3 linked regions of the Homo sapiens genome follow. The protein of the gene in region 1 interacts with the protein of each later gene in a pairwise test. Each region holds a gene or a part of one and is shown on either strand. Other genes may lie near its edges. The genes, in order: ADARB1, PNPT1 and ZMAT4.

The links.
Region 2: the proteins of ADARB1 (region 1) and PNPT1 interact in binary tests that used the Homo sapiens proteins (3 or more experiments, as listed by UniProt).
Region 3: the proteins of ADARB1 (region 1) and ZMAT4 interact in binary tests that used the Homo sapiens proteins (3 or more experiments, as listed by UniProt).

What each region holds. Positions count from the first base shown.
Region 1 is NC_000021.9:45,216,499-45,226,568, forward strand, and holds the end of ADARB1 (double-stranded RNA-specific editase 1), read left to right. Parts: intron 1-4,337; coding exon 4,338-4,516; intron 4,517-5,519; coding exon 5,520-5,699; 3' UTR 5,700-9,048; coding exon of another isoform or gene 9,049-9,057; 3' UTR 9,058-10,062; downstream 10,063-10,070. UniProt on the Homo sapiens protein: Catalyzes the hydrolytic deamination of adenosine to inosine in double-stranded RNA (dsRNA) referred to as A-to-I RNA editing.
Region 2 is NC_000002.12:55,632,469-55,642,538, reverse strand, and holds the end of PNPT1 (polyribonucleotide nucleotidyltransferase 1, mitochondrial precursor), read left to right. Parts: intron 1-1,833; coding exon 1,834-1,912; intron 1,913-4,939; coding exon 4,940-4,987; intron 4,988-6,146; coding exon 6,147-6,302; 3' UTR 6,303-8,478; downstream 8,479-10,070. UniProt on the Homo sapiens protein: RNA-binding protein implicated in numerous RNA metabolic processes. Catalyzes the phosphorolysis of single-stranded polyribonucleotides processively in the 3'-to-5' direction. Mitochondrial intermembrane factor with RNA-processing exoribonulease activity.
Region 3 is NC_000008.11:40,892,824-40,902,763, forward strand, and holds the start of ZMAT4 (zinc finger matrin-type protein 4), read right to left. Parts: upstream 5,004-9,940; 5' UTR 4,860-5,003; intron 1-4,859.

The sequences.
Region 1 (10,070 bases):
TTAGAAGTCTGCTATTTAGTTTCAAAATACTAGGGATTTTACAGAGATCTTTCTGTTGTTGGTTTTTTAGTTTCATTTAATGACTTCAGTCCTTTTAAATTTATTAGACTTGGTTTTATGGACCAGAATATGATCTATCTTTATAAGTGTTCCACAAAACTTGAAAGAATGTGAATCTGCCACTTTGGGGTAGAGTGATCTGTAAATGTTGATTAGGCCAAGTTGTTTGATTATACTATTTATTTTCTTTTATATTCTTACCGATCTTCTACTTGGTCTATCAGTTATTGAGAGGCAGGATTGAAAATCTCTTAGTTATAATTGTACATTATCTATTTCTTCCCCTTTTTTAGAGTTTTTACTTCCTGTATTTTGTAGCTCTGTGATTAGATGCATAAAAATGTAGGATTGTTGGTTTATCTTAATAAACCGACCTCCTTTACCATTATATGATGACCCTCTTTATTTCTGGTAATAGTGTTTGTTCTGAAATTTGTTTTGAGATTAATATAACCTCCTCAACTTTCTTTTGATTAGTGTTAGCACAGTGTATCTTCTATCCCTTTATATTAAAGTACTTTATCTTAAAAATATGTTTCTTATAGACATATATTTATATATATTTATATGTTTGGATCTTGCTTCTCTCTCCCACCATGGACAATCTCTGCCTTTTCACTGAGGTACTTAGACCATTTACATTTATTGTGATTATTGATATTATTAGGTTTAAATTTCATCTTGCTACTTATTTTCTACGTGTTTCATATGTTCTTTGTTCACTTTTTCCTCATTTTCTTACTGCTTTTGCCTTAATTGGGTGTGTTTGATGATTCCATTTTGACTCCTTCTTGACTTTTGAGCTGTAACTTTTGTTAATTTGGTGGTGGTTTTTAGGGTTTATAGTATGCATTCTTACCACGATCTCCCTTCAAGTGATATTATACTACTTCACATATAGTAAAAGAACCTTACAACAGGATACTTTCGTTTTTCCATTCCCAACCTTTGTGGTATTGTTTTCAGACACTTTTGCATGTGTTAAAAAAATCCACATCTTATTATTTTCATCTTAATAATTATCTTTTAAAGGAATTTAAATAATAAGAAAAAAACCTCTTGTATATTTATCCATGTAGCTATCATTTCCAGGGCTCTTCATTCTTTGTATAGATCTGGATTTCCATTTTGGTATCATTTTTTCTTCTGGCTGGAGGACTTCCTTTTACATTCCTTGTAGCACAAGTCTTCTGATGATGAATTATTTCAGCTTTGGTATGTCTGGGAAAGTATTTTGCTTTCATTTTGAAGTATATTTTGCTGTACAAATATATTTCTGCTGGAATGGCAGGGTCCTTTTTCTCCTTTAAGCACTTTAAAGACATTGCTTCCCTGACTTGTTGTTTGCGTTGTTTCCAGTAAGAAATGTGTTGTTATCTTTATTCCTCTGTGTGTTTTTTGCTCTGGGTTTGCTTAAGATTTTCTCTTAATACTAGTGTTGAACAATTTGTTCTGTTGTGCTTTGGTATATAGTTTTATTCATGTTTCTTGTGCTTGGGATTCATTGAAATTCTTTAATCCATGGGTTTGTTGGTTTCATGAAATTTGGAAATTTTTTATTCATCTTTCTTCAGATATATTTTCCGTTCCCCCTTCTCTCTCCTCACCGTCATGAAATCTAATTACACATATTTCACCCTACCTAAACCTGCCCCATATCACTGATTTTCTGTTCTTTTTTTCTCTCTTTGTGTTTCATTTTTGGTAGTTTCTGTTACTGTGTCTTTAAGTTCACTAATCTTTTCTTCTGCGGTTTCTATTCTGTGGTTAGTCCCATCAAGTGTATTTTTTATCTAATACATTGTAGTTTTCCTCTCTAGAAATTTGGCTTAGGCCTTTTTATATCTTTATGTCTGTATCTTCTATATGTGAATGTCAGGCACTTTTCCATTCTCTCAGGAGGCTGTTTCCCAGCCTTGATTGAGTAACATGCCTACTCTGATCAGTGCTCCGCAGGATATTCAAGGACACCCTCTGCGTATCTCCAGGGCTCACTCTGTCTGCATGTCTCTTCCTTCCGGTACTCTGTCTTATGAAATCTGGCTGACTTGGTTTCCCTTGACTCTCAATTCAGGGGATCTGCTACACTCTGCCTGGGTTCCTTACTCTGAACAGTGAACTGTCATCTGGGTTTTGATATCTCTCCAAGGGAGGGATAAATGGTCATTGAAAGCAAGTGAGCATGGTGACGGGGTGGGGGTGGCCTCCACAGGGCACGAAGTGAGTTGTACTGAGTCATCTGAGAGTGCAGTGTGCTGCTTCTGGCCAGTGGGCTTGACAGTTCAGTGTCTGGGTTCAGAATATGAGTCTGCCCATGTTCTAAGCATGTTCTAAAGATTCATATCCCAAATTAGTTTTGATTTTGGTGGCCTATAACATCCATGTGATATGAATTATCAAGCTCAATATATAAATGCAGATACATGTATTCAATTCCGAGTTATGCAAGTGTCTTTTTAAAAACTTTCAACCCTGCAGAATTAGCCTGTGATTAGTTAAGATGAGATCGTTTAAACACAGCAAGAAAATAAGTACAAGGGTACTTCAAAAAGTTCATAAAGTTAAAAGATAAAAAAATGTTTAAAGATATAAACATTATTTCTCAACATAAGCTCCATCAAATTCAAGACATTTTTGTAAGTGCTGATCCTAGCCATTTAGATTGTCCCTAAAGAACTGAATGGTGGCTAGGTGTGGTGGCTCATGCCTGTAATCCCAACACTTTGGGAGGCCGAGGCGGGAAGATCATGAAGTCAGGAGATTGAGACCATCCTGGCCAACATGGTGAAACCCCATCTCTACTAAAAATACAAAAACCAGCTGGGCATGGTGGCACGCGCCTGTAGTCCCAGGTACTTGGGAGGCAGAGGCAGGAGAATCGCTTGAACCCAGGAGGTGGAGGTTGCAGCAAGCCAAGATCGCACCACACACTCCAGCCTGGCAACAAGAGTGAGACTCCGTCTCGAAAAAAAGAACTGAATGTCTTGGGAGTTTAACCATGTCAGTGCAGTCTTTCTTACATTAGTAACTGAAGAAAAATTCCTTAAGCATGCCCCTTAAGGAATTTTTGAGATTAGGAAACAAAAAGAAGTCAGAAGGAGCCAAATGAGGTGGATTTGCAACCACCATAAGGTGGATGGCTCATGATTTCCTCTCGAAACCCTCACACACTTGCCCTTGTTTGATGAGAGGAATAAATAGGCGCTTTGTCATGGTGAAGGTCTCTGGCGAAGCTTCCCCAGGGGGTTTCTGCTAAAGCTTTGGCTCACTTTCTTGAAACACTGTCATCATAAGCAGATATTACCATCCTTTGGCCCTCCATGTGAACCCAACAAGCAAAACGCCTTGAGCATCCCAAAAATGCTGCCATGGCCTGTGCTTTGGCCAGTCAGCCTGTGCTTTGACTGGGCCCCTTCTGCCTCTTGGTAGCCTTTTTTTTTTTTTTTTTTGGATTATGCATTTTCTTCAGGATTGTCTTTGTAAAAGCTATTTTTATCTCCTGTTTGATGTTTGTTCTTGCTTCAATTTTAGCAGAAGTCATGTAGCTCTGATAGGAGCGCTTTTCAAACAGATGTCTTAATCTTCTTAGTGCCTCAAACTAGATCCTATTCAGACATGTTTCAGCAAGTTAGTACAAGTTTATTTTGGTGCCAAAAAATTTTGAAATCCATGAGGTTTTTTCATAATAAGCATTTTCCATGAACTTTTTCAAGACTCTTGTTAAGAATTAGGGTTTCCTATTGCATCATGGATGTCACACATGCAAAGCCACGTGACCTGAACATGCCTGGCCTCTCAGTGGCAGGGGAGCACATGCAGGCATGAGCGCCAGAGGTGGTGTGATACAGGAGCAACCCCCACCTGCACGACCTCATGGGACCCTGCATTAGTCTCAGAAGTGGCTCCCACCCATCCACTCTCAGGCTGCCAAGGTTCCTGGCTCCGTCAGTGCCAGAGTGAGAAAAGACACACTTGTCAGGAAGTCTCATGATTTCAGGTTTCTGTCAATCTTCTGCCCACCTGCCCTGTCAGACAAGTGCATACCCGTGGGTCAGTTCTGCTTTCTCAGCACTGCTCCTATTCTGGTGGCCGTGGAAGAGTGTGAGGCCACTGCCACGGCAGATGCACGCTCAAGTCTGCGTATATTCCTCGGCAGGCAGAATTCCCCCACCACGCACTTCTGTGGCCATGTCTGAGCACAGTGTGCCGCCCGTGGCTGCTCCCTCCCTGGGGGTGAAAGCGGGCTTCACACCACCTTCCTGTGTCTTCCGTTTCAGGCATCAGCAATGCAGAAGCACGGCAGCCAGGGAAGGCCCCCAACTTCAGTGTCAACTGGACGGTAGGCGACTCCGCTATTGAGGTCATCAACGCCACGACTGGGAAGGATGAGCTGGGCCGCGCGTCCCGCCTGTGTAAGCACGCGTTGTACTGTCGCTGGATGCGTGTGCACGGCAAGGTACTGAGGCGCCCTCACCGCAATGCGCCGGCTCCACCTCCCCAATAGCTTGTCTGTCCTCACACCTACTGTTCCTTAAGTTGTTTCATCATGTCATCATGCACAGCTTCCGAAAACGATCACTTGGAATGATTCTTCCTTCAGATTGTTTTAGCTTAGAAGTGTGGCTACGTCCCTGAAACCTTAATGCCATCTCAAAGGCAGCTCTTTTCCTCCCTGCTGCAGGGTAACACCCACTGCCAGGCCACTGTGTGTGGTGGAAACGTCTCTTACTCTCAGATATTGAAAGTCATTATGCAAAACGCAGGGCCAGTCACCCTGCTGTCCCCTCCTTCTCAGCAACATAAAAATTGCTTGGATTGTGATAACCCTCCAGTGGAGTTTTTAAACCTTTTGAATTAGCTGTGGGGCCCTTTTTTCCCCAGAATAAAACTTTATATAGTAAGTCAGGGTATTACTAGTTTGTGTGTATTCTTCAGTCAAGTAGATGGCATCTGTTTATTCTGAGACCAGCATTGTGCACTGGCATGGGAGGTATAGCCAGAAGGGACAGTGCCCGGGAGGGTCCTGTTCACCAGGGGCAGCACCCAGGCCAGCTGCCACAAGTCCAAGGTCCACACAGAAGGAGTTACTGGCCGCATGAGGGAAGGCCTCCGAGGTCATCAGGGTGATGACACACATAACATCCGTGGTGCTTCTTAGAGTTAAAAATGAAACGTGAATCCACTATTGGTGGTTTCCCAGAAGCATGTCTTCAGAACTCGGGGGTCTGTAGCTGCCTGTTTGACCAGCAAGACTGGAACTTGGCAATAACTCAGCCCTTAGGAGACGCCGCACCTTGTTCTGTGTGAAGCCGTTCCCTTGGCAGAAGGCGCCTTCCTCTGGGTTGCTTTCCCCCCAGAAGCCAATGCAGTTCTGAAGGCCATGTTTTGGTATCTTATTAGGTGTTGTTTTCATCTGTTACAGCGTCAACAGTTGCATTTGTTTTTTTATCCCTTCACAGGTTCCCTCCCACTTACTACGCTCCAAGATTACCAAGCCCAACGTGTACCATGAGTCCAAGCTGGCGGCAAAGGAGTACCAGGCCGCCAAGGCGCGTCTGTTCACAGCCTTCATCAAGGCGGGGCTGGGGGCCTGGGTGGAGAAGCCCACCGAGCAGGACCAGTTCTCACTCACGCCCTGACCCGGGCAGACATGATGGGGGGTGCAGGGGGCTGTGGGCATCCAGCGTCATCCTCCAGAACCTCACATCTGAACTGGGGGCAGGTGCATACCTTGGGGAGGGAGTAGGGGGACACGGGGGACCACCAGGTGTCCACGGTTGTCCCCAGCATCTCACATCAGACCTGGGGCAGGTGCGCAGTGTGGGGAGGGGATGGGGTGCGTCAGGGCCCAGCATCGCCGCCTGGCATCTCTCTGCCGCAGCATTTCCCCTTCTGAACCGTCCAGTGACTGCTTTCAATCTCGGTTTACGTTTAGAAATTGAGTTCTACTGAGTAGGGCTTCCTTAAGTTTAGGAAAATAGAAATTACTTTGTGTGAAATTCTTGAATAAATAATTTATTCAGAGCTAGGAATGTGGTTTATAAAATAGGAAGTAATTGTGTCAGGTCACTTTTATGCCACATTATTTTAATTGCAAAAAAGCATCTATATATGGAGGAGGGTGGGAAAATAGAGGTAGGAAATAGTAGCCTAAAGGAAATCGCCACACGTCTGTCTAAACTTAGGTCTCTTTTCTCCGTAGGTACCTCCCTGGGTAGTTCCACACACTAGGTTGTAACAGTCTCTCCCTGAGGAGCAGACTCCCAGCATGGTGTAGCGTGGCCCTGTCATGCACATGGGGTCCCGCAGCAGTGACTGTGTGTCCTGCAGAGGCGTGACCCAGGCCCCTGTAGCCCTCAGCCTCCTCTAGAAGCTTCTGTACTCCTTGTAGGATCAGATCATGGAAAACTTTTCTCAGTTTACTTCTAAGTAATCACAGATAATACATGGCCAGTAATCCCAGGCTGGCCATTCATTCAGGTTTTTTAAAGGATATTTAACTTTTATGGACTAGAAGGAATCACGAGGGCTACTGCACAATACATGGCCTAAGTTCCCTCTGTTCCTTCCTCTGAATCGAATGGATGTGGGTGACCGCCCGAAGGCCTTCACAGGATGGAAGTAGAATGATTTCAGTAGATACTCATTCTTGGAAAATGCCATAGTTTTAAATTATTGTTTCCAGCTTTATCAAAGACATGTTTGAAAAATAAAAAGCATCCAAGTGAGAGCTGGTGAGACCACGTGCTGCTGGCGTAGTGTAGGCCAGACATTGACAGTCCTGACGGGAGCTCAGGGCTGCCCAGCGCCCAGCGTGCACGGGACGGCCCCACGACAGAGGGAGTCAGCCCGGGAGGTCAGGAGCGCGGCGGGCGAGGGCCCTGTGTGGACCACCTCCACCAAGCTCAGAGATTTGCACCAGGTGCCTTGTTGCCTCCGCTCAGGATGAAAGAGGAGCTGAGAGAAGTGCTCTGCCTGCCAGTGCAGTGCCCAGCTCCAAGGCTCTAGAGGGTGTTCAGGTGGGTCTCCTGGGGCCATGGGGAGAGATTGGTGCAGACCTTACCCCACAGCATACACCTGCCACAGCGAAATCCAGGGTGTTGGCACCTGTGTGTCCGTGATGAGCCTAGGAAACCAGAGCAGGGGCAGAGGGGCGTCATCCTCCCACCGGACGCTGGGAGCTCAGACCCCAAAACTGAAACACCGTGGCTTCGGCGGGGGGTGTGCCTCCTGATGTCAGGAGCCCCATCCACGTGTGTCCACACAGATCTCGTCGCAGCACGGCAGGAAGGGGTGCTGCTTAGGGCTCATTGTTGGGGACATGACCGGGTTCAGCGGCTAGAACATCTGCCCCACAGCAGCCTCCTCCTCCACCGAAGAGGGTAGTTGTCTCCCTGAAGCAGTCACAGCAGGCGTCTCTGCCGCTCCGTCACCACAGTGGGGTTTTGTTCAGGCAGATCGCGCTGGGGTTCTGCACCTGCAGAAGGAGAGGGGTCTGTTGTCGCTGGCTTTCCCCCAAGCAGGCTCTTGCACACTCTAGAAAAAACACCTTGTAAGTCTGTGCATTTTTATTGTCTTGATAAATTGTATTTTTTTCTAATGGGGATTGGGAGATGGACTTCGTTTTTAAAAATATGTGGATTTTGGTTACCAAGTTTAGTGTTAATATATTCCATATACATACAAAACTACCCGGTATGTCTGGCTTTTCCCTTCTGTCAGGTAATAGCTAAAGTCAGCATGATTGCTCCCTGTACCACCCCAAATAAGTGAGTGCCTCACCTTGTGGGGCCTGAGCAGCTACCTTGAGACCATGTGAGGTGGCACCTTTCCGGGGTGGACTCGTGCGGCCTTGAGGACAGGCACAGGGCACCCTATCCCAAGCCGTCCAGGCAGGAGGAAGGCAGCCAAGGCAACTGGGTTCTGGGAGCCCTGGGTGGGGCAGCTGTGGGGAGGAACTGGGTTCGGGGAGCCCTGGGCGGGGCGGCTGTTGGGGGGAACTGGGTTCGGGGTGCCCTGGGCAGGGGGCTACTGGGGGGCGGCTGTGAGGAGGAGTTGGGTTCAGGGAGCCCTGGGCGGGGTGGCTGTCAGGGGGAACTGGGTTCCGGGAGCCCTGGGCCGGGGCAGGGGGCGGCTGTAGGAAGGAACTGGTTTCGGGGAGCCCTGGGCGGGGCGGCTGTGGGGAGGAAGGTGACGTGCAGGGGACCAGAGGCTCTGCACTGCTCCTAGGACAGCTCATCTGTAATCAGAAAAAAAATAAACAAAATACAGAACGCTGACTCCTCCGTGAGACAGATCGGGGACCTTAGCACTTTAATCCCTCCCTTCTGAGCGCTCGGTGTGCACTTTTAGACTATAGCTGTTTCATTGACGTGTCACTCTCCATCCAGTGTCCTTGATGTGGCTTTTAGAGACTTAGCAGAAAATTCGACACAAGCAGGAACTTGATTTTTTAAGAAAAAATATTACATTTTGAGGACATTTTGACAAGTAGGGGAAGAGAGGGCTTCTGTTGTTTTGTTTTGTTTTGTTTTGTTAACTAAACCTGAAGTATTAATTCCACAAAGACACTGTCCCTCAGGACCACTCAGGTACAGCTCTGCCAGGGACAGAGTCCTGCTAGTGGGAGGTCTCAGGTGGGGCGGTGTGTTCTGTGCCATGAGGCAGCGACAGGTCCAGATGGATGTCGTCACCACCTTCCTCAGCTCTCATCACCTGGTCGTACGCCAGGCCCACCTCTTCCCAGCAAGGGACGCCAAAGAACTGCAGTTTTTATTCTGAGTCTTAATTTAACTTTTCATCATCTTTTCCTATTTTGGAGAATTTTTTGTAATTAAAAGCAATTATTTTAAAATGTGCAAGCCAGTATCTCACAAGGCATGGATTTCTGTGGAATTTATTTTTATTCAAATAACCATATTTATCTCCAGGCTGTGGAATCGCCACTTTCTTTGTGAAGACAGTGTCTCTCCTTGTAATCTCACACAGGTACACTGAGGAGGGGACGGCTCCGTCTTCACATTGTGCACAGATCTGAGGATGGGATTAGCGAAGCTGTGGAGACTGCACATCCGGACCTGCCCATGTCTCAAAACAAACACATGTACAGTGGCTCTTTTTCCTTCTCAAACACTTTACCCCAGAAGCAGGTGGTCTGCCCCAGGCATAAAGAAGGAAAATTGGCCATCTTTCCCACCTCTAAATTCTGTAAAATTATAGACTTGCTCAAAAGATTCCTTTTTATCATCCCCACGCTGTGTAAGTGGAAAGGGCATTGTGTTCCGTGTGTGTCCAGTTTACAGCGTCTCTGCCCCCTAGCGTGTTTTGTGACAATCTCCCTGGGTGAGGAGTGGGTGCACCCAGCCCCGAGGCCAGTGGTTGCTCGGGGCCTTCCGTGTGAGTTCTAGTGTTCACTTGATGCCGGGGAATAGAATTAGAGAAAACTCTGACCTGCCGGGTTCCAGGGACTGGTGGAGGTGGATGGCAGGTCCGACTCGACCATGACTTAGTTGTAAGGGTGTGTCGGCTTTTTCAGTCTCATGTGAAAATCCTCCTGTCTCTGGCAGCACTGTCTGCACTTTCTTGTTTACTGTTTGAAGGGACGAGTACCAAGCCACAAGAACACTTCTTTTGGCCACAGCATAAGCTGATGGTATGTAAGGAACCGATGGGCCATTAAACATGAACTGAACGGTTAAAAGCACAGTCTATGGAACGCTAATGGAGTCAGCCCCTAAAGCTGTTTGCTTTTTCAGGCTTTGGATTACATGCTTTTAATTTGATTTTAGAATCTGGACACTTTCTATGAATGTAATTCGGCTGAGAAACATGTTGCTGAGATGCAATCCTCAGTGTTCTCTGTATGTAAATCTGTGTATACACCACACGTTACAACTGCATGAGCTTCCTCTCGCACAAGACCAGCTGGAACTGAGCATGAGACGCTGTCAAATACAGACAAAGGATTTGAGATGTTCTCAATAAAAAGAAAATGTTTCACTACTCTGGTG
Region 2 (10,070 bases), on another chromosome or scaffold:
TGCCTCCCGGGTTCACGCCATTCTGCCTCATCCTCCCCGGTAGCTGGGACTGCAGGTGCCCGCCACCACGCCTAGCTAATTATTTTTTGTATTTTTAGTAGAGACGGGGTTTTACCTTGTTAGCCAGGATGGTCTCGATCTCCTGACCTTGTGATCCGCCCCCCTCGGCCTCCCAAAGTACTGGGATTACAGGCTTGAGCCACCGCGCCCGGCCAACTGAATTCTTTAACCAAATTTTCTACTAGTAATTGGTGAAACCCCAAATTAATTTTCCCAGTAAATATTAAATAGGCCCAAAATAGACTTAGCAATATTTCTTTATTTCTTTTTTTTTCTTTTGATGGCTTATTTTAAACATATCTGAATGCTTAATTGGCACATATTTTTAAATCCAATTTCGGCTGTGCATGGTGGCTCACGCCTGTAATCCCAGCTCTTTGGGAGGCCAAGGCAGGTGGATCAGGAAGTGGGGGGTTCGAGAGCAGCCTGACCAACATGGTGAAACCCCATGTCTACTAAAAATACAAAAGTTAGCCAGGCATGGTGGTGCATGCCTGTAATCCCAGCTACTCAGGAGGCTGAGGCAGGAGAATCGCTTGAAGCCGGGAGGCAGAGGTTGCAGTGAGATGAGATCGCACCACTGCACTCCAGCCTGGGCGACAGAGCGAGACTCCATCTCAAAAAAAAAAAAAGCCAATTTCAGTCTCAAAGCATTTTTTTTGACCAGCTAGAAGAGCTTGTTTTTTTAGGATAAGAAAATCCCTCTTTTAAGAAAAAGGAAATTATCAAATGTAGCAAAAATGTTCAAAGCTATTTGAAATAAAATAAAAGGCAAGGAGATAATTTGTTTAATATTGCAGGTGAAAAATAAGAAATGGGATGGCTTATTTTCATAGATTAGAGAAAAAAGGGAAGATTAGTTTTTTAATGAAATAAGTATTCCATTTTACCTGACCACCTTCCTTAAATCCTTACCTTACAGGTTAATCATATGAGATTCTATACTATTTTTAAAATATTTAATGTCATTTCGAAAATTTTTGGAAAATCGAGACCAGCCTGGCCAACTTCGTGAAACCCCATCTCTACTAAAAATACAAAAATTAGCTGGTCATGGTGGCACATGCCTGTAATCCCAGCTGCTTGGGAGACTGAGGCATGAGAATGACTTGAACCTGGGAGGCGGAGGTTGCAGTGAGCCCAGATGGCACCACTGCACTCCAGCCTGGGTGGCAAAAAAAAAAAAAAAAAAAAATGTTTTTGGAAATTGTTAAGAGAAATACAGAAGAACATATATTCTAAAAGTTTTTTTTGTTGAGACGGAGTCTCACTCTGTTGCCAGGTTGGAGTGTAGTGGCACGATCTCGGCTCACTGCCACCTCCGCCTTTCGGGTTCAAACAATTCTCCTGCCTCACCCTCCTGAGTAGCTGGGATTACAGGTGCGCGCCACCAGGCCCAGCTAATTTTTATATTTTTAGTAGAGACGGGGTTTCACCATGTTGGCCAGGGTGGAGTTGATCTCTTGACCTCGTGATCTGCTCACCTTGGCCTCCCAAAGTGCTGGGATTACAGGTGTGAGCCACCGCACCTGGCTCTAAAAGCTTTTCTATTGCATGTTTTTTCTTTATCTTTTCTTCATTCTTTGATTCACACATATTTATTTATAGGGTATATTTTCAGTTGAAAAGTATACTTTTTATAGTTCTAAAAACGTGCTAGAATTGTTTCTTTTCGTTTTTTACTTTTTCCTCATATGAAAACAATGTTTTATTTGTCAATGGATATACAGATACTTATTATTTTAACCAGGCTTACTATTTATTTTTTTGTAGAGATACTGGTGTAATGGTAAAATTATATCCAAATATGACTGCGGTACTGCTTCATAACACACAACTTGATCAACGAAAGGTAAAAAGACAGATGTTATTGTTATTATTTTTATAACTGCCTTGAAACACTGTATTGAAATTACCTAGGTTGGTAAGAATTATACACTTTGCCTACTACTAGCCTAAACAGAGAAAACAAGTGGCAGAGATGCTGCTGGCAAAAAGTTTTACATTGTTTAGCATAAAGAAAAATTGGCTGGGCAGGGTGGCTCATGCCTGTAATCCCAGCACTCTGGAAGTCCGAGGCGGGTGAATCACAAGGTCAAGAAATGGAGACCATCCTGACCAACATGGTGAAACCCAGTGTGTACTAAAAATACAAAAATTAGCTGGGCGTGGTGGCGTGCGCATGTAGTCTTAGCTACTCGGGAGGCTGAGGAAGGAGAATCGCTTGAACCCGGGAGGCGGAGGATGCGGTGAGCCAAGATTGTGCCACTGCACTCCAGTCTGGCGACAGAGTGAGACTTTGTCTCAAAAAAAAAAGAGTGTCTGTTTTACCATATATTAAAATATATTATAAAGCCATAGACAATAAAATAGTATATTACCGGCCCAGAAATAGATAATCCATGCAACAAGAAAACAAAAACTAGAAATAATATACATGGGATTATAATATACGCTAGAAGTTGTATTATAGTCAGTGAATAAAGATTATTTAATAAATTATATTGGTACAGCTGGTTATCTTAAAACAGGATCTCTACTCATTTTTATACCTAAATCCTGTCTGGATCAAAGAGCTAAATGTGCTTTTTAAAAAAGGTGGTAGGAAAAGATAATCTTGTTGGGGCAGGAGGGTTTACTAGAAGAAAATTGGATGTTTTAATAAGATTAGTAGTGGAGAACTCCTCAACATGATATCAAAGCCAAAAAAGTAAATAAACTTACAAAATTTGACCCCATAATTTTTTAATTATATGGCAAAAATTTCAATAAGGTTAAGAGATAATCAGCAACCTAAAGTAAAAATGCTTATATGCAGAAGCTTAATTTACAAAGGGCTTTTATAAATCCGTAAGAATGATGAATATCAATAGAAAAATAAGTAAAGAACATGAACAAATTATTTTTATAAAAAGCCAACCAAGATATTTAATATCAACAGCAATTTTTGAAATGCAAATGAAATTAAGATATCAGTTTTAACTTTCAGATAGTTTAAAATTCTCAGTGTGTATAAGAGAAAAGATGGACATTTTCATACACTGTTGATGGGGGTGTGAATTGGGACAAACTTTTTAGAGGGTGTTTGGTAAATGTCTATGGACCTAGACATTGTAGGATTTTATTTGGAGAGGATAATTAGAGTAGATGAATTCATGATTTGTGCTACACTGCAACTTATTTTTTTTCACCTTATTATTTTGAAAAGTTTTTAATGTACAAAGAAGTTGAAAGAATGATACACTAAACCCTCATATATCTTTCTCCTATATTCATCAGTCATTAACATTTGCAACACTGGAATTTAAAGCAATTTATTGTCTTTAGGTGATTGTTTAAATAAACTATATAGTTTGAAACTTAACGGTAATTCTTAATTTATTGATATGAAAAGATGTCCTTGGGCCAGGTGCAGTGGCTCACGCCTGTAAGCCCAGCACTTTGGGAGGCCAAGGTGGACGGATCACTTTAGGTCAGGAGTTTGAGACCAGCATGGCCAACATGGCAAACCCCCGTGTCTACTAAACATAGAAAAAATTAGCTGGGCATGATGGCGTGCACCTGTAATCCCAGCTACTCTGGAGGCTGAGGCAGGAGAATCTCTTGAACCTGGGAGGAAGAGGTTGCAGTGAGCGGATATCATGCTACTGTACTCCAGCCCGGATGACAGAGCGAGACTCCATCTCAAAAAAAAAAAAAGATGTCCTTAAGATATACAGTAAGCACAGAGGGTCCATTTTTATAAATGCCGTACACATACACTAAGTAGACATCTGAAGGGATACTCATTGGAATGTTAGCAGTAGTTATCTACAACTTGAGAGGGTTTTGAGACAGGGTCTTGCTCTGTCACCCAGGCTGGAGTATAGTGGCATGATCACAGCTCACTGCAGCCTCAGCCTCCCAGGCTCAAGTGATTCTCCCACCTTAGCCTCTGGAGAAGCTGGGTCCCCAGGCACAAACCGCTACACCCGGCTAATTTTTTTGGATTTTTTGTAGAGATGGGGTTTCTTCACGTTGCCCAGTCTGGTTTAAGCAGTCCTTCCACCTCGGCCTCCCAAAGTTCTGGGACTACAGGTGTGAGCCACTGTACCCAGCCTGTTTTGGATAATTTTTATGTTCTTAATACATCTGTATTTTAAATCTTTATAATTAACTGATTTTTTTTTTTTTTTCTGAGACAGAGTCTGACTCTGTCGCCCAGGCTGGAATGCAGTGGCATAATCTCAGCTTACTGCAACCTCTGCCTCCCAGATTCAGGCAATTCTCCTGCCTCAGCCTCCCAAGTAGCTGGGACTACAGGCGTGTGCCACGACACCCAGCTAGTTTTTGTATTTTTAGTAGAGATAGGGTTTCACCATGTTGGTCAGACTGGTTTCGAACTCCGGAGCTCAAGTGATCTGCCTGCCCCAGCCTCCCAAAGTTCTGGGATTACAGCCGTGAGCCACCATGCCCAGCTGATTTTTTTTTTTTTTTTTTGAGACGGATTCTCTCTCTGTCACCCAGGCTGGAGTGCAATGGCGTGGTCTCGGCTCACTGCAAGCTCCACCTCCTGGGTTCACGCCATTCTCCTGCCTCAGCCTCCTGAGTAGCTGGGACTACAGGCGCCCGCCACCATGCCCGGCTAATTTTTTGCATTTTTAGCAGAGATGGGGTTTCACTCTCCTGACCTCCAGAGATGGTCTCAATCTCCTGACCTCTTGATCTGCCCGCTTCTGCCTCCCAAAGTGCTGGAATTACAGGCTTGAGCCACTGCGCCCAGCCGCTAACTGATTTTTTTAATCAGAAAAACTAATAAAGCTTGAGGAAAAAATGTGTACTTCCATGGACACTACATAATTATGCACAACAACTAATAGATTAACATTTTTTTTTCCAGATTAAACATCCTACTGCCCTAGGATTAGAAGTTGGCCAAGAAATTCAGGTATTTGTATTCCACCTTTTAGCCTTGAAGTTGTAAATTGTTCTTGAAGCTTCCATTGTTTTTTTCAAAAAGTTGAAAGAAGAGTCACCATCTATGAAGTTTTTTATTTGTATGCAGTACTTCATTTTTAATCTTAGAATTGCTTGAACAGACTCATTAAGGATTTAAGACACAATTCTTTCCCTCAAGGAGCTTGCAGCTTGGCCAAAATGGTAGTCACCCTTAGTTCGTTTAAAAAATACATGAGCATGTTAGTGTTAGCTATGCAGACTCCATGATTTGGGCACTGACGTAAGAACTGTGATAAGGTAACTTGTTAAAGTCTTTGAATGTCATCTTTGAGGAGGTGAGACTTTGTTTCTCCACTACTTAAAGTTTTTGAGCTTGGTAAGAGCCATGTTATTCAGGCCTAGAATTCATATAACAAAATTGGCCCTTTCTTTGTAGTCCTTTATGAGTGGATGAAAGAAGTCATTGCCAGTCTGTTTTTTCGGGCTCCACCACATTGTCTTTCACTTACGCTAATACGCATGACCTGAGTAACTAAGGCTTCTGGTTTATTCCCAATGTGTAGTCTTATTGTCCAAGTAGCCTCCAGGGGAAGATGAGTGCTAAGATATAGTATCTCTGTATAAGGTTGATTTTTTGGTTTATTTGTTGTTGTTGTTGTTGTTGTTGTTTTCACATCAGAAGGAACTTTAAACCTTTGCATTTGCCCCTGACTTTCATTTTCCAAGGTGAAGCCAAATAAACACTAATGTGTTGGTCCTTTGAGCAGTAGTGAAAATCCAAGTGACCTAAGCATAATCCTCTATAGTATATAACACAATTAGGCTCTCAAAGCCCTTGTCTAGGATCATTCACTATGCCTGTGACTGTTCCCCCAGTATAAGGACTTGGCCTGGTGAGAATAAAAAGGCACAGATGAGTTCAGCGGCAGATTATAGTTGAACAACTAACTGCCCCGTCTCTTTTCTCTTTTATAATGACTACTTATATGTGTTAAGTGTATACGTCCACTTAGCACTGAACAATGCTTTCAGTGAACAAGTAAAAACAATCATTGCCTTATTTGGACCATGTAAATTTAAATGTCTATTAGTTTAGATGTCACTCAATGTGCTGTAACTTTAAAGGAAGATCTGTTTCTTTAACACAGGTGAAATACTTTGGACGTGACCCAGCCGATGGAAGAATGAGGCTTTCTCGAAAAGTGCTTCAGTCGCCAGCTACAACCGTGGTCAGAACTTTGAATGACAGAAGTAGTATTGTAATGGGAGAACCTATTTCACAGTCATCATCTAATTCTCAGTGATTTTTTTTTTTAAAGAGAATTCTAGAATTCTATTTTGTCTAGGGTGATGTGCTGTAGAGCAACATTTTAGTAGTATCTTCCATTGTGTAGATTTCTATATAATATAAATACATTTTAATTATTTGTACTAAAATGCTCATTTACATGTGCCATTTTTTTAATTCGAGTAACCCATATTTGTTTAATTGTATTTACATTATAAATCAAGAAATATTTATTATTAAAAGTAAGTCATTTATACATCTTAGAAAAAATTACATAGTTTTGTTTTTACAATTCTGAAATATATGAAAAACTTAGATAGAATATGTCATATGTTATTATAACAGATCTCTTCCTACATCTTATTTTTCTTCTTTGTATACAGTAGTGACAGTTTACCTTCAGTCATCCTACAGGTCACCTCTGTGCCCAACAACTTTACTTGCCTACAACGGTTCACAAACTGGAACAGGCCATATTCAAAGCCAGTGCCTATTTCTTCAGAACTGTTAACAGATATAGTGAGTTGAGGGAGCTAATCTGATACACTTTTGATAATATAATGCCTTTCAAATTAGTTACCAAATCATAAACAGAGTGGAATAAATATAAATGAGATTCTAACTAGGATGAATGTGGTAGTAATGATGTATATTTTTCAAATTTACCTAAACAGAAAGATTATTGGCTAAGGCAGGCGGATCATGAGATCAGGAGATCGAGACCATCCTGGCTAACACGGTGAAACCCCGTCTCTACTAAAAGTGCAAAAATTAGCCGGGCGTGGTGGCGCATGCCTGTAATCCTAGCTACTCAGGAGGCTGAGGCAGAAGAATCACTTCAACCCAGGAGGTGGAGGTTGTAGTGAGCCGAGATTGCGCCATTGCACTCCAGCTCAGGCAACAAGAGCAAAACTCCGTCTCAAAAAAAAAAAAAAAATTGTTTACTTATCAAATTGAACTAGGTCAATTTGAATATGTGTATTGCTCTAATGTATGGAAGTTCTTAGTATAAGAGCTGAAGGATCATGACTTTCGGTTAATAGATGTTTGAAATAGATGTTTAGAGGTTACTGATACACATGTCAAGTTGTTCATTCCCATCATTTAAAATATCACCTTATAATTCCACAGAAAAGTAAATGGTATGTGGACGTCATAATTTAGAATGTGTAATCTTTTTTAAAATCTTATAAAAATACACTGGACTCAGTGGTACGTGCCTGTAGTCCCAGCTACTTGGAAGGCTGAAGTGGGAAGGTCACTAGAGCCCAGAAGTTCGACACTGTAGTGTGCAACAATCATACCTGTGAATAGCTACTGTACTCCAGCCTGGGCAACATAGCAGGACTCTTATCTCTAAAAAAAATTTTAAATCTTATAAAAATGTAGGTATATCTGGCCAGGCATGGTGGCTCACACCTGTAATCCCAACACTTTGGGAGGTCAAGGCGGGTAGATCACCTGAGGTCAGGAGTTCGAGACCAGCCTGGCCAACATGGTGAAACCCCATCTCTACTAAAAATACAAAAATTAGCTGGGTGTGGTGGCGGGCGCCTGTAATCCCAGCTACTCAGGAGGCTGAGGCAGGAGAATCTCTTGAACCTGGGAGGCAGAGGTGGCAGTGAGCTGAGATCGCACCACTGCACTCCAGCCTGGGCAAAAAGAGTAAAACTCCATCTCAAAAAAAAAAATGGTGGGCACAGAAGCTCATGCCTGTAATTCCAGCACTTTGGGAGGCCGAGGCGGGTGGATTACATGAGGTCAGGAATTCAAGACCAGCCTGGCCAACACGGTAAAACCCCATCTCTACTAAAAATACAAAAATTAGCTGGGCATGGTGGCAGGCACCTGTAATCCTAGCTACTCGGGAGGCTGAGGCAGGAGAATCACTTGAGCCTGGGAAATGGAGGTTGCAGTGAGCCGAGATTGCGCCATTGCACTCCAGCCTGGGCGACAGAGCAAGACTCCGTCTCCAGAAAAAAAAAAAAAAAAGGTAAATTCATGACTCAGGGTTAACTAGTTCATAAAATATTACAAATTTATCTGGCTAAACCAAAGATTTTTAAGTCAATAAACATTGATTATATATCTATTGTGTGTAAAATAGCATGTTAGGCAATGTTGATATACTTCTGAAATATTAAAGATTAATTGAAAATGAAAGATTAAATTTATTTGCTTTCTACACTTGATATCGACTATTATTTAATAACAGTAACAAAAGTTTTTATTCTCACTTCTGCTTTCTAAGACATAATTCTTATTTTAAGATATCATCCTTAATGGTAGAATTTCAAAATTGCAATTTGTGTTTTTCTTAAATTTTCTGTTTTCTTTTTCAAAGGAACTCCCAACTCCTAATAATATGGAAAATGAAGCCAGTTCTTAAACAAACTCCAGAAACCTGAACTGACACAAAGTACAAATACAGCTTACTAACTGCAAACCACCAAAAGAACACCATTTCTGCTTAAACCAAGAGCCTACACTTTATGTCTGAACTTTTCTTATTTTTGTCTTCATTTAAATGTTGGTAGTTTTCCCTACTTTCCAATGAAGTTTTTCTTTTTCTTTCTTTCTTTCTTTCTTTTCTTTTTTTTTTTTTTTTTTTTGAGACAGAATCTCACTCTGTTGCCAGGCTGGAGTGCGGCGGCGCAATGTTGGCTCACTGCAACCTCCACTTCCCAGGTTCAAGCAACTCTCCTTCCTCAGCCTCCCTAGTAGCTGGGATTACAGGTGCCCTACACCCGGCTAATTTTTGTATTTTTATTTTATTTTTTCTTATTTTTTTGAGATGGCATCTTGCTCTGTCGCCCAGGCTGGGGTGCAGTGGTGCATTCTCAGCTCACTGCAAGCTCCGCCTCCCGGGTTCACACCATTCTCCTGACTCAGCCTCCCCAGTAGCTGGGACTACAGGCACCTGCCAATATGCCCGGCTAATTTTTTTTTTGTATTTTTTAGTAGAGACGGGGATTCACCATGTTAGCCAGGATGGTCTCATCTCCTGACCTTGTGATCTGCCCACCTCGGCCTCCCAAAGTGCTGGGATTACAAGCATGAGCCGCTGCGCCTGGCCCCAATGAAGTTTTTCTATGACGGCTATATTATATGCTGGAAACACTAATTTATAGTGACTCAGATCAAACTGAATGCCATCTTTGGTGGTTAGCTCAATACAAGTACTTAAAAGTAAGACTTTTTTTCCCATGACTTTTGTTTTGATACAGGAACACACATACTCCATAAGTTACTGTTCTATCACAGTACAGTTTTTATATAATCATTTTTTCTTCTATTACAGAATATCTTACATTCTTGGATCTAAAATGAAAACATGAATATCTTTCTTAGTTCAGTTCAGCCAAGCATAGCATTCTTTTATTCATCATTTAACATGTGCCAGGCATTATAAGGTATGCAGGGGATGTGTCAGTAAATAAAAGACCTAAGTTAGGCCGGGCACGGTGGCTCACACTTGTAATCCCAGCACTTAGGGAGGCTGAGGCGGGTGGATCACCTGAGGCCAGGAGTTTGAGAACAGCCTGGCCAACATGGAGAAACCCCGTCTCTACTAGAAATACAAAAATTAGCCAAGCGTGGTGGCACATGCCTGTAGTTCTAGCTACTCGGGAGGCTGAGGCAGGAGAATCACTTGAACCCGGGAGGCAGAGGTTACAGTGAGCCGAGATCGTGCCACTGTACTCCAGCCTGGGCAACAGAGCAAGACTCCATCTCAAAATAACAAAAACAGACAAAACAGCTAAAGTTCCAATGCTCATATTCT
Region 3 (9,940 bases), on another chromosome or scaffold:
TCTAGGCTCAGGGAAATAGGTAAGGGTTCTCATCAGCAGAGGGCACAGATGCCTGCACTCCATGGCCCTTGCCTTTCCCTCCTCACAGATCTGTGGCTCCTGCCTCAGCTAAAAGCCCCTGCTTATCCGTTTCCTAAAGATCATCACAGAGGCTCAACAACCTTCCCTTTTTAACATCTCTTGCTGATGGAAAATTCTTCCTCATACCTAATCTAAGTCCATCTGCTGCAATTTCTGTCTATTTTCTCTAGTTCAATCCTTGCTGGAGATGGAGAACAGCTGGTCGCCATCCTCCATATAACATCCCCTCCTAAACCAAAATCAGTTATTACATCAGCCCTCATCCTGTGCTTCTTCTGTTACAACATCTTCCGAGCTGCCCTCATGGATTCCAGCTCTGAAAGCATCGCTGATCACCATGGCCCGCACGAGAGGATGCTCTGCAGGCTCCGAGAGCTTCCAGAGCTGTAGCATCTGCAGTGGGATGTAGGGCTCTGTGGCAAAATCAAGAGAGAAGGTTGGAGCGGAAAGGAGCCTGTGAGAACGTAGTCCTGACCTCTGGCTCTATATCTAAGGGGACTAAAAGTCAGAAAAGGCACATAAGCACATGCCCAAGTTCAAATCTGAGGGATCTAGCTCAAGTGCCAGAGCCCAGATAGTAAGATCACAAAGCCCTGGGACACTGCAGCATGTTTTCAGCATGGGTCAGAGCAGGACCAGCCAGAGCTAAAAAGCGAAGGCCGCCGTTTCCCACTCTGCTCCCCATCCAAACTCAGTCTGCCTCTGCCCAATCCCACTAGCAGGTGCCTGGAATTTGACTGTGCACATCTTTTGTTTTCTTTCCAACTTTTTAATTTTACGTCCGGGGGTACATGTGCAGGTTTGTTATAATGGATAAATTACACGTGGCAGGGGTTTGGTGTACAGATAGATTATTTCATCACCCAGGTAGTAAGCATAGTACCTGATAGGCAGGTTTTTGATTCTTACCCTCGTCCCACCCTCCACCCTCAGGTAGGCCCCTATTGTTCCCCTCTTCATGTCCATGTGTACTCAATGCTTAGCTCCCACTTATAAGTGAGAACATACACACATCTTTGATTTCCTTTAAGAATGTAAATACCTCTGTAAGTAGCAACACTATTAACTGTTCACACCTTAGTATGAATGAGTAGATTTGATCCTTTCCAACTATTAACAGATTTAGGGGTGAGAACAAAGAGCAAAGAAACTGAGAGCACAGCAGGCAAATTTCCCTGCATGCTAATGTTTCCAAGGTCAGCTCTGCGCATGGGGCTGCAGCAGGCGCAGGCCTCAGGACAGTGGCACAGTGAGGGCTTGCGGCTGGTGGGACTCTCCAGGTGTCAGACAGGACTGTGCTTCGAAGCATCTGCCCTGTCTGCCTCATGCAGGTCAGCTGCACCACTCCAGGTGCTCTGGTGAGGTCTGCATAGAACTGAACTTGGGGACAGGATTACCTCATTGCTCCCCTAGGGTAGGCTCCTATCACATTCCACAATTCCTGATGTCCCCTGGTTAACTGTTTCAGGAGTGAGGTGCACAAAACATCTACAATTAGATCTCCACCCTGGGGCCCCCTGAAATGACAGGAAGGAAGAAACAAAAAGTAACCAGGAAAGAGAGGTAACCCTACATGTAGGGTGAATGGAGGAAGGGAGGAAGGGGCACGAGCATGGGAAGGAGAGTGAGTAGGATGAATGATTTAGTCATAATTTGGGCTATGAAATTTTCCTAAATGAAAGATGAAGAGGGAAAATAGCAGAGTGTGGTGAATACATTTCAGGGTCTAGGTTTCAAAACAGCCTTCACCCCACCTTGAATACATGGAAATAGCGTGCTCCAACCTCTTCAACTTTCTGAGGTGTTCCAGAGTGTTTCAAATCTCCAGACACACCTTCCCCTAGGACAGGAAGGGAATTCACACATCCACAGAAAAAAAAAACAAGACATTGTAAAAGCGTTTACCAAAACAGCGAACACAATAGGCGTGCTTATTAGATTTCCCCAAAAGCACAAAATTAAATTTTAAAGCAGAAGGCAAAAAGGCTCTTCTCTGATAAAAATTTTAATATGTTTTCAGTCTTATTTCAGGGGACAATTTTCTTTAACAGAAAAATCAGCACAAAATGACAAGATCAAAGTAGGTTGGCAAAAGATTACTTACTGATATGTTTATGATGAAAAGGGATAACAGAAGGATGACAGGGATGGAGGGACAGAGGGGTAAGGAGAGGACTTTTATTTGCCAGGTAACTCACGCAGGGCTTGGAAAAGCAGAAAGACACAACCCCTTCCCACCATAGTGGTTAAAAGAGAGAGAGATCCAGTTTGGCCAATTGGGAAGAGGAGAAAACGCTGGGTCTGTGGATAGTGCTTATCCAGGGTCCTGGCCAAAGCCATCATGTTTGATGAAATGACAAGTAACACATTTAATTTCCTAGGCATTCATCGGTCCTTGCATACACAAACAGGCACGCAGCTTCACAAGGAGTTAATTAGCCTAACACCAGCAATTAGATTCTCCAAACTGGATCGCAGCAGAGGCGCTGGGTCCTGGGTTTCACACCTCACCCCATCCAAGGTGAAGCTGTAATGAGGGTGTTTTGCACTTTGTCAATTATTTTTCAGCTCCTAGGATCCTTTTTTGGTCTAAAGTTGTTATTTTAATGATCTCTGTTCCGAATGGGGAAATACAAGAAAGAGGATTGAGGAGGAGGCAGAGGGAAGGAAAGCGAGCGCTCCAGCGTGTCCCACTTGTACTTTCCAAGGCCCCCTCCGCCCCCTCCCCCCACACTGCCTCTTCCCTCTGTGCATGACTCACCCTTCAGGAGCTGTTTCAAATGCCTTACTTTTAATGTTTCCTATCACGATAGAAATCCAACAGATTGGCATCAATTAAAGGGAACCCCCAGTTTTGCAATCCTCAAACTCAAAAGCATTTTCTGGTTTCCTTACTGCCTTCATGAAAACCAAGGTGCTCTCATGCAAGATCCCCCACGTGCTGGGGGCTGCCCCTCCTGGGCTCCCTGGGGGTCACGTGCCCTGGAGAGGCCACAGAGGACGACGTCCATGACTAACCATGCCCACCGGCTGGGAAAAGTTCAGCTTCCGCTCCAGGCCCCCCAAACACAAAAAGATTATAATTGGCAGGGCTGCAAAATTGTTTTGTTTACTGTCAGATAGGAAGTACAGAAGAGAACGCTGATGGTATTTTGACACCCCCCCCAAAAAAAAAGTGGGCAGGCATTTTTTTAACCATTGTGAATAGAGTTTCAATAATCACAGTTCCCACCCAAAATAGCTGCCTACAGGAGGTGGAGGAGAATCTGTTGTGGTGGTTAAAGAAAATAAGAATTAAAAAGTGGAAGGGATTTGTGGAGCTGGAGAATCAAGACTGTCATCTGCATCTCCGTGGAAGGGTGCCCTGAGGAAGAGGTGTCACTGGAGAATCCCTCCCAGAACATGCAGTCTTGTCAGGACTGGGAATCGAACTCCCCAGCTGCGGGTTTAACGGAAATCAGAGGGATGAAAATCATCTAAACTCTTCAATGCCCCTAGGACTTGGAAGATCACCCCCAGACTATCAGCTTCAGAGTATCCCGCAGGTAGGCAGCGCAACTGGTGAAGTGCGGTGGGCACACAAGCAGAAGCTGCCTTCGCAGAAGAGGAAGAAAGTTCGAGACCAAGCACATCGCCTGCTTCCCCATGGGTCCCTGCTTCCTAGTGACTCACCTACCTAATATCTCCCTTTAGCAGAAGCCAAAGGCGGAGGAGGCAGGGGGAGAAAGGAGTTTCCCAAGGGTCTCAGAGCAAGAGAGGCCCCTGAGGTCTCGCGATTTAGAATGCTCAAGGGTGCTTCTGGGCTGAACCAGCTGCCTGCCGGGGTGAGCTGTTTTACTTCAAGAGCAGTTAGCAGAAGCAGTGTGGATGGTGACTTCAGCACCACCTCTGCCACAAATGCACCTGTGCACCAAAACAACCTGCGCACCTACACGGAGCCACCCCCTCCACCAGCCTCCACCTCCCAGAGCTGCGGGGATGCTCCGGGCCAGGCACCCCTTCTGGGGACAAGGGTGTAAGCTTCACATGGTACCAAACCGAACTCTCTATCCCGTTTTTTGGCTTTTTCTTTTTTTTTTTTTTTCAGGATACCCCAAGCCTGGAAAGTCTTCCAGAGTTTTCGGGAGCTAATTAATTATGTGATTTCCTCTCCTCTGAGAACTGTTTTGCTGGCGTGTCACCAAGTTGTCACGTAGGTGCCCACCAGGTCAAACAGAATAGACCATCCTCACCCACCCACCCCGGGGAATGTCTCCTTCCACCAAATAAAATGAACTGAGACAGGCAGGAAGGAGGCAGAAGTTTGAGGAAGGACTCCAGTTGAAGGTCACAATAGTTTGGGGAAGGCAGATCAAGGTAATACGAAGGGGACAGACCCTATAGCGGAAAACACAAACAACCAATCACGTTTCTCTCGGAACCAGCCTATCCATGATGGGTGCACCAGGAAACAGCACACCCTGGGATCCAACTTCTTTCACCCAGCACACCCGAATCTCCACCCCAGCCCTGCAGACACCCTAGCCTGAGACCAGACCTATTTAGACAGACCTGAGCGCAGCTAATTAGGAGTAGTAAACAAGCCCATTTCTTGCCAGCGCAGAAGTTTCCCAAATTGTCCGCTTGTTTTCCTCCCAACAAAAGACAGTGATTTCCCACCTTTATCACATTCCCTCCCAGAAACTTTTCTTTCTGCAATCCCTCCACCTAGGCTAAACTGCAAAGCCACTGGCAATGGAGACGCAGGCGCTGCACCCCCGGGACGCAGGCAGAGGTACCTTTTCCGCGAGGCAGAGGGGCCGCCGGTGCCCAGAGGCCAGCTGCCCTGCCGAGCAGTAGAGCGAAGCTGTGGGCTGGAGCACGCTGAGGATTACACGTTCCTGTCTCTGCGACCAGACCTTTCGGCAGCTCGGACCAACTGTGCTAGCGATGCACTTAGCAATTATCTGCTGGCTCCGACGCCCCGCCCTCTGCTCTTGCGATTGGCTCTCCAGTCCCGGGCAGGACTGCATTGGTTTCAGCCGACCTCACTCATTGCTTTGGCTCCTACTATTATCTAAGCCATCAAAGGAAATAATTCCATGTTTCATTGACAACCTGTAAGGCTCTCCTCCAGCCCAATGTGGGGGCAGGACCGGGAGGCCAGTGGAGAGAGGGGAGAGGAGTAGGAAAATGTGGGGGAGCGGGGTGGGGGAAGGAGGTGGAGGGGAGAGGAAAAGAAGGAGAAACTGTGGGGGGGTAGGAGGGTAGGAGGGAGAGAGAGAGAGAGATGGAGCTATCAAGCAATCAGATTCTTGCTCTAGCATTTTAACTTCCACAAAACAGAGCCCATAGCAACAATTTTCTGGCTTTATTTTCCCCCTAACTGGTAAATGTTGCTGAGGGCAGAGAGAATAATAACTATGGGGTGTCTGCCGGCATGAGACAGACTCTAGAAAGCCGAGCAAGGTTGAGGGCTGAAGGGATGGAGTAATGCTTTTCACAGGGCCACCCTGGAGGACATGTGAAGGACATGGCAGATTGCTTGGGGAGCATAGTAGGTGCATACCTGGAGTTTATCTATCAGTACTTTATCTCACAGTCCCCCTCATCCCCCAACCTGAGGAGACAATTTTCCTTTGCACCCTGTCCAAAGAGTCTCAGAAGAGCTATTCTTAAAATCCATAAAACTCTGGAGTTTCTCACTGTTCTCACTGGGAGGTCCAGAAAGCCGAGCATTCTAGAGTGAATGATTCTGCTGGGACCCTCACTTTGGTTTATTCTGACATGGCTTAAATTAATCGCTTAGACTTTCATCAACAACCTACGCACGTGAAGAGAGAACATACCCATCAAAGGGTGGGGACAGCTTAAACACTTTTCCTTGTTCACCAAGAAATCATAAAGTCTCACCCTAGTTAAAATGGCTTTTATCCAAAAGACAGGCAATAACAAATGCTGGCAAGGATGTGAAGAAAAGAGAATGAACCCTCCTACATTGCTGGTGAGAATGTGAATTAATGCAGCCACTATGGAGAACAGTATTGGGGTTTGTCAGAAAACTAAATATAGAGCTACCATCTGATCCAGCAATCCCACTGCTAGGTATATACCCCCAAAAAAGAAATCAGTATCTTGAAGAGATTCCTGCACTGCCATGTTTATTGCAGCTCTGTTCACAATAGACAAGATCTGGAAGCAATGTAAGTGTCCATCAACAGATAAATTAGATGAAGAAAATGTGGTACATATGCGTAGTGGAGTACTATTCAGCCATAAAAAGGAATGAGATCCTGTCATTTACAACACCATGGATGGAACTGGAGGACATTCTGTTAAATGAAATAAAACAGGCATGGAAAGACAAACTTCACATGTTTTCATTCATTTGTGAGAGCTAAAAATTAAAACAATTGAACTCATGGACAGAGAGAATAGAATGATGGTTACCAGAGGCTAGGAAGGGGCGGGGGTGGAATGGTTACTAGGTACAAAAATAGAGTTAGATAGAATGAATAGGATCTGGTATTTGACAGCACAACAGGGTTATTACAGTCAGCAAAACATATTGTACATTTTAAAATAACTGAAAGAGTACAATTGGATTGTTTGTAACAAAAGGAAATGCTAAATGCTTGAGGTGCCAGATACCCCATTTACCCTAATGTGATTATTACACATTGCATGCCTGTATCAAAATATCTCGTGTACCCCATAAATATATACACCCACTATGTTCCCATAAAATTAAAAATTTTTAAAAATTAAGAAGAAATCATAAAGCACAAATTTTGACCTTCCCCTCTCCTTAATGTATTTGTCACCATATGGAAAAGACATCACTTGGCAGCTAAATTTTCTTAACTAGGTAAAATATTTATTATTAATGTTTCTAAAATGAAAGAGCTTTTATAAATCAATAAGTACAAGACCTATAACCCAATTCAAAAATGGCAAAGGACAAAATGGGCTGAATTTTTTAAGAGAGAATTATAAAAGCGTCTTTTAAAGAAAGCTTTTAAAATATCAAATTTCAGATGATCCAGAAACTAACCCTTCAGCCTTCTTATCCTAGGATCTCCATGTCTTTGGTGAGGCTCTGGTCCCAGTCCTGCCCTGGCCTCCCCTGGGGCCTTGAATGGCTGTAGTCCTTATCTTCAGCTGCGTCCTCTGCAGCAAATGGCAGGTGCCCCACTGCCTTGTATGGTGACTTTCTATTTCATGCATACATGCCTGGCTTCCCTAAATACATTTCAAGCCCTGTAAAGACAGAGATGGTATCATGCATATTTTTATCACTCCACAGATAGCACCTAGCACTCAATAAGTGGGCTGACTACTAAAACCCAATTCAAAGCATCCAGGGTGCACAGCCCTAAGCCTCATGCGACCCTCATTCCACTGCAACTACTCTTCCAGCAGAGCAGAGTGTGGAGGGGGCCCACTCTGGAGTCCAAGAGCTAAAAATTCAGGACTAACCACTGTGAAATGCCTGTGAAATGCGGCAGCTCCAGAGTCACTCGAAGCTCTCTGTGTTCTCTCTGGAAAATGAGGCAGGTCTTCACCCAGTACCTTCCTCCTCCCTCAAGCATTTGAAGGAAATGAAAGGATGTGGGATGCACATTTTACTTGTGAGGCATGACCTCAAAAAATGAAGTCCTTTCCATAATGGCTTTCCAAATATCAGCATGAGTAGGAGACAGTGACCGTATATTAGGAATTCAAAACTAGGGCAAGGGATGTAGCAAAATATTTGTTTTCTATTTCATTCCTTTGTCTAGGTGAAATCACACAAAGGCACAATAATGAAACTAAACTTAGCTATACATTTGAAATTGACACTGTCCTAGAAAATCTGGTGTGTTCAGTCATGGTGTAAAAACCATAAATAACACTTTTATTATTTAAGCAGTATGATTTTTACTTTCGAGTGAAAGTAGGCTTCAGCTTTGTGCCTTCATACTATCTCTTTTTCCACCCCCCTTAAGAAAATAAGAGAAATAAACTAAATTATAAGAACTCTCTTGAGTATCTATCAAAGGTTTAGTTGTCCCTGAAGGAAAGGGAAAACATTTCAAGTGATTTTCTAAAATGCTTTGTCTAAAACAGCATGTCCTTACATGTACTTTTTGCCTTTTGAAGATGAGAGAGAGAGAAAGAAAGAGAGCAAGCCTCAAACAGTTGTTTATGTCAGTGTCTTTTAAACTGCCTGGTCATAAAATATCCTCTTTGAGAGAAGGATTCTCCCTTTGTGTCCCATAGATCAACTGCTTAATTCTGAGAGTTAGAGAATGAATATTAAATATGCAGATTCCACTGGTACTTGCATTTGTATTAAATATCAGCTCCATACAATTTAAATTCACTGGGGTATGAAATGTACCAAATTCCATGTTGTGGGCCATACTCGGCAAAGCAGTCCATTTTGATTTAACAGTTTCAGGACATTAATGGTGGGAAAGACTTTTGGGGGTTCCTGTTCCATTTTGAGTAATTAGGGAAAGAATGTGGGTTTCTTTATTAAAACACAAATTAGACAGCAGCCGCCGGAACCTCCATCATTCTTGTGGGTAACCACTTGCTACAACAAATGACCATGACCTACCGTGGGAGGCTGGAGAAATCTTGCATTTACTTGTCCGTGTATGCCATTTTCTCAGTTATCATTTATTTATGCCAAATTCTGTTTCTAAAAGGGAGAAGAGGAGAATAAATCTAGGCAATGCCAAGAAAGAGGAAAATGTGTGAAAACAAGAGGAAAACAAAGGGGGTGACTTTCAACACTACATCTTTGCTTATTGACTTCAGCCCTACAATACCATTTCAATGAAAACATAATATTAGCAGGATTTCTTGAACCTAGCATTGGAAGAATGAAAGGTTGTTCAGAAAACTTCTCCCAGCACAGTCTCCTAAGTAGAGAAACTTGGAAGAACATTTTCATAGCTTTCTGTTCTAGCTGATAGCTGTTGTGAAATCAAACTCCCTCCCCCTCCACCCACACCCCCACTCCCACCATGAAAATCAAACCTGTGGAGCCAGTGACATTTTGACAAAGCGTAAGAGGAGACTGTGGCTGCCAGGAGGGTGTCAGTCAACATGAACCATTCTTAATGATTTCATTAATTATTAATGAGTCTTTAGAAAGTTGGTATTAGAATATACAGGCTTCATGAGGTTTGAAAACAGTAAGGATATTTTATTATTTAACATACCCTGATGAATAAAGCAGGTGATTTTGTTTCTTTAAATCACAATCACATTTATTAGTGAGCCAGAGTTGTAAATAATCTGAAAAAGAGAAAGAGGAAGACAGAGACAGGGACAGATGGAGAGGTAGAGAGAGACTTGCAAAGCTAGATTGCCCACCTAAATTCTGTTTTACTTCAGTTAAATTCTTCATAAGAAATATGCAGCTGAAAGATGTCATGAAATATTATCCAGCGATGCAACAATTGACAGGGGTAGGGGAGCTGAATTAAGAAGGTCAGCTTGCCTTCTGTGAGGCTGGCAGGCCATGTGTAGTGTGAAGCACCCTTCTAGAATAAAGGTCTGCACACATGGAGACAGCTGTTGGACCCCTGCCAGACAGGACCCACGTTCTAACATAGCTGCTTTCTTGAAAGAACCCATTGAACATGTGTTTACAACACCTGCCACACACCATTTCCTCATTTATAAAGCAGAGTGATCATTGTTTCTAAGGCTGTTGAGAGAATGATGGCAAATAAACCTACAAAAGAAGACGCAGATGTCCTGCCCTTGATGTTAAGCCTAGTGACAATAGCAGGAATGTCTTGGCATGGGTCAATATTCTTGTGATGCATAGCCACTTGGCTGTCCTAGACCAGATGTTACATCCGCTCTTGGGGTGGGACCT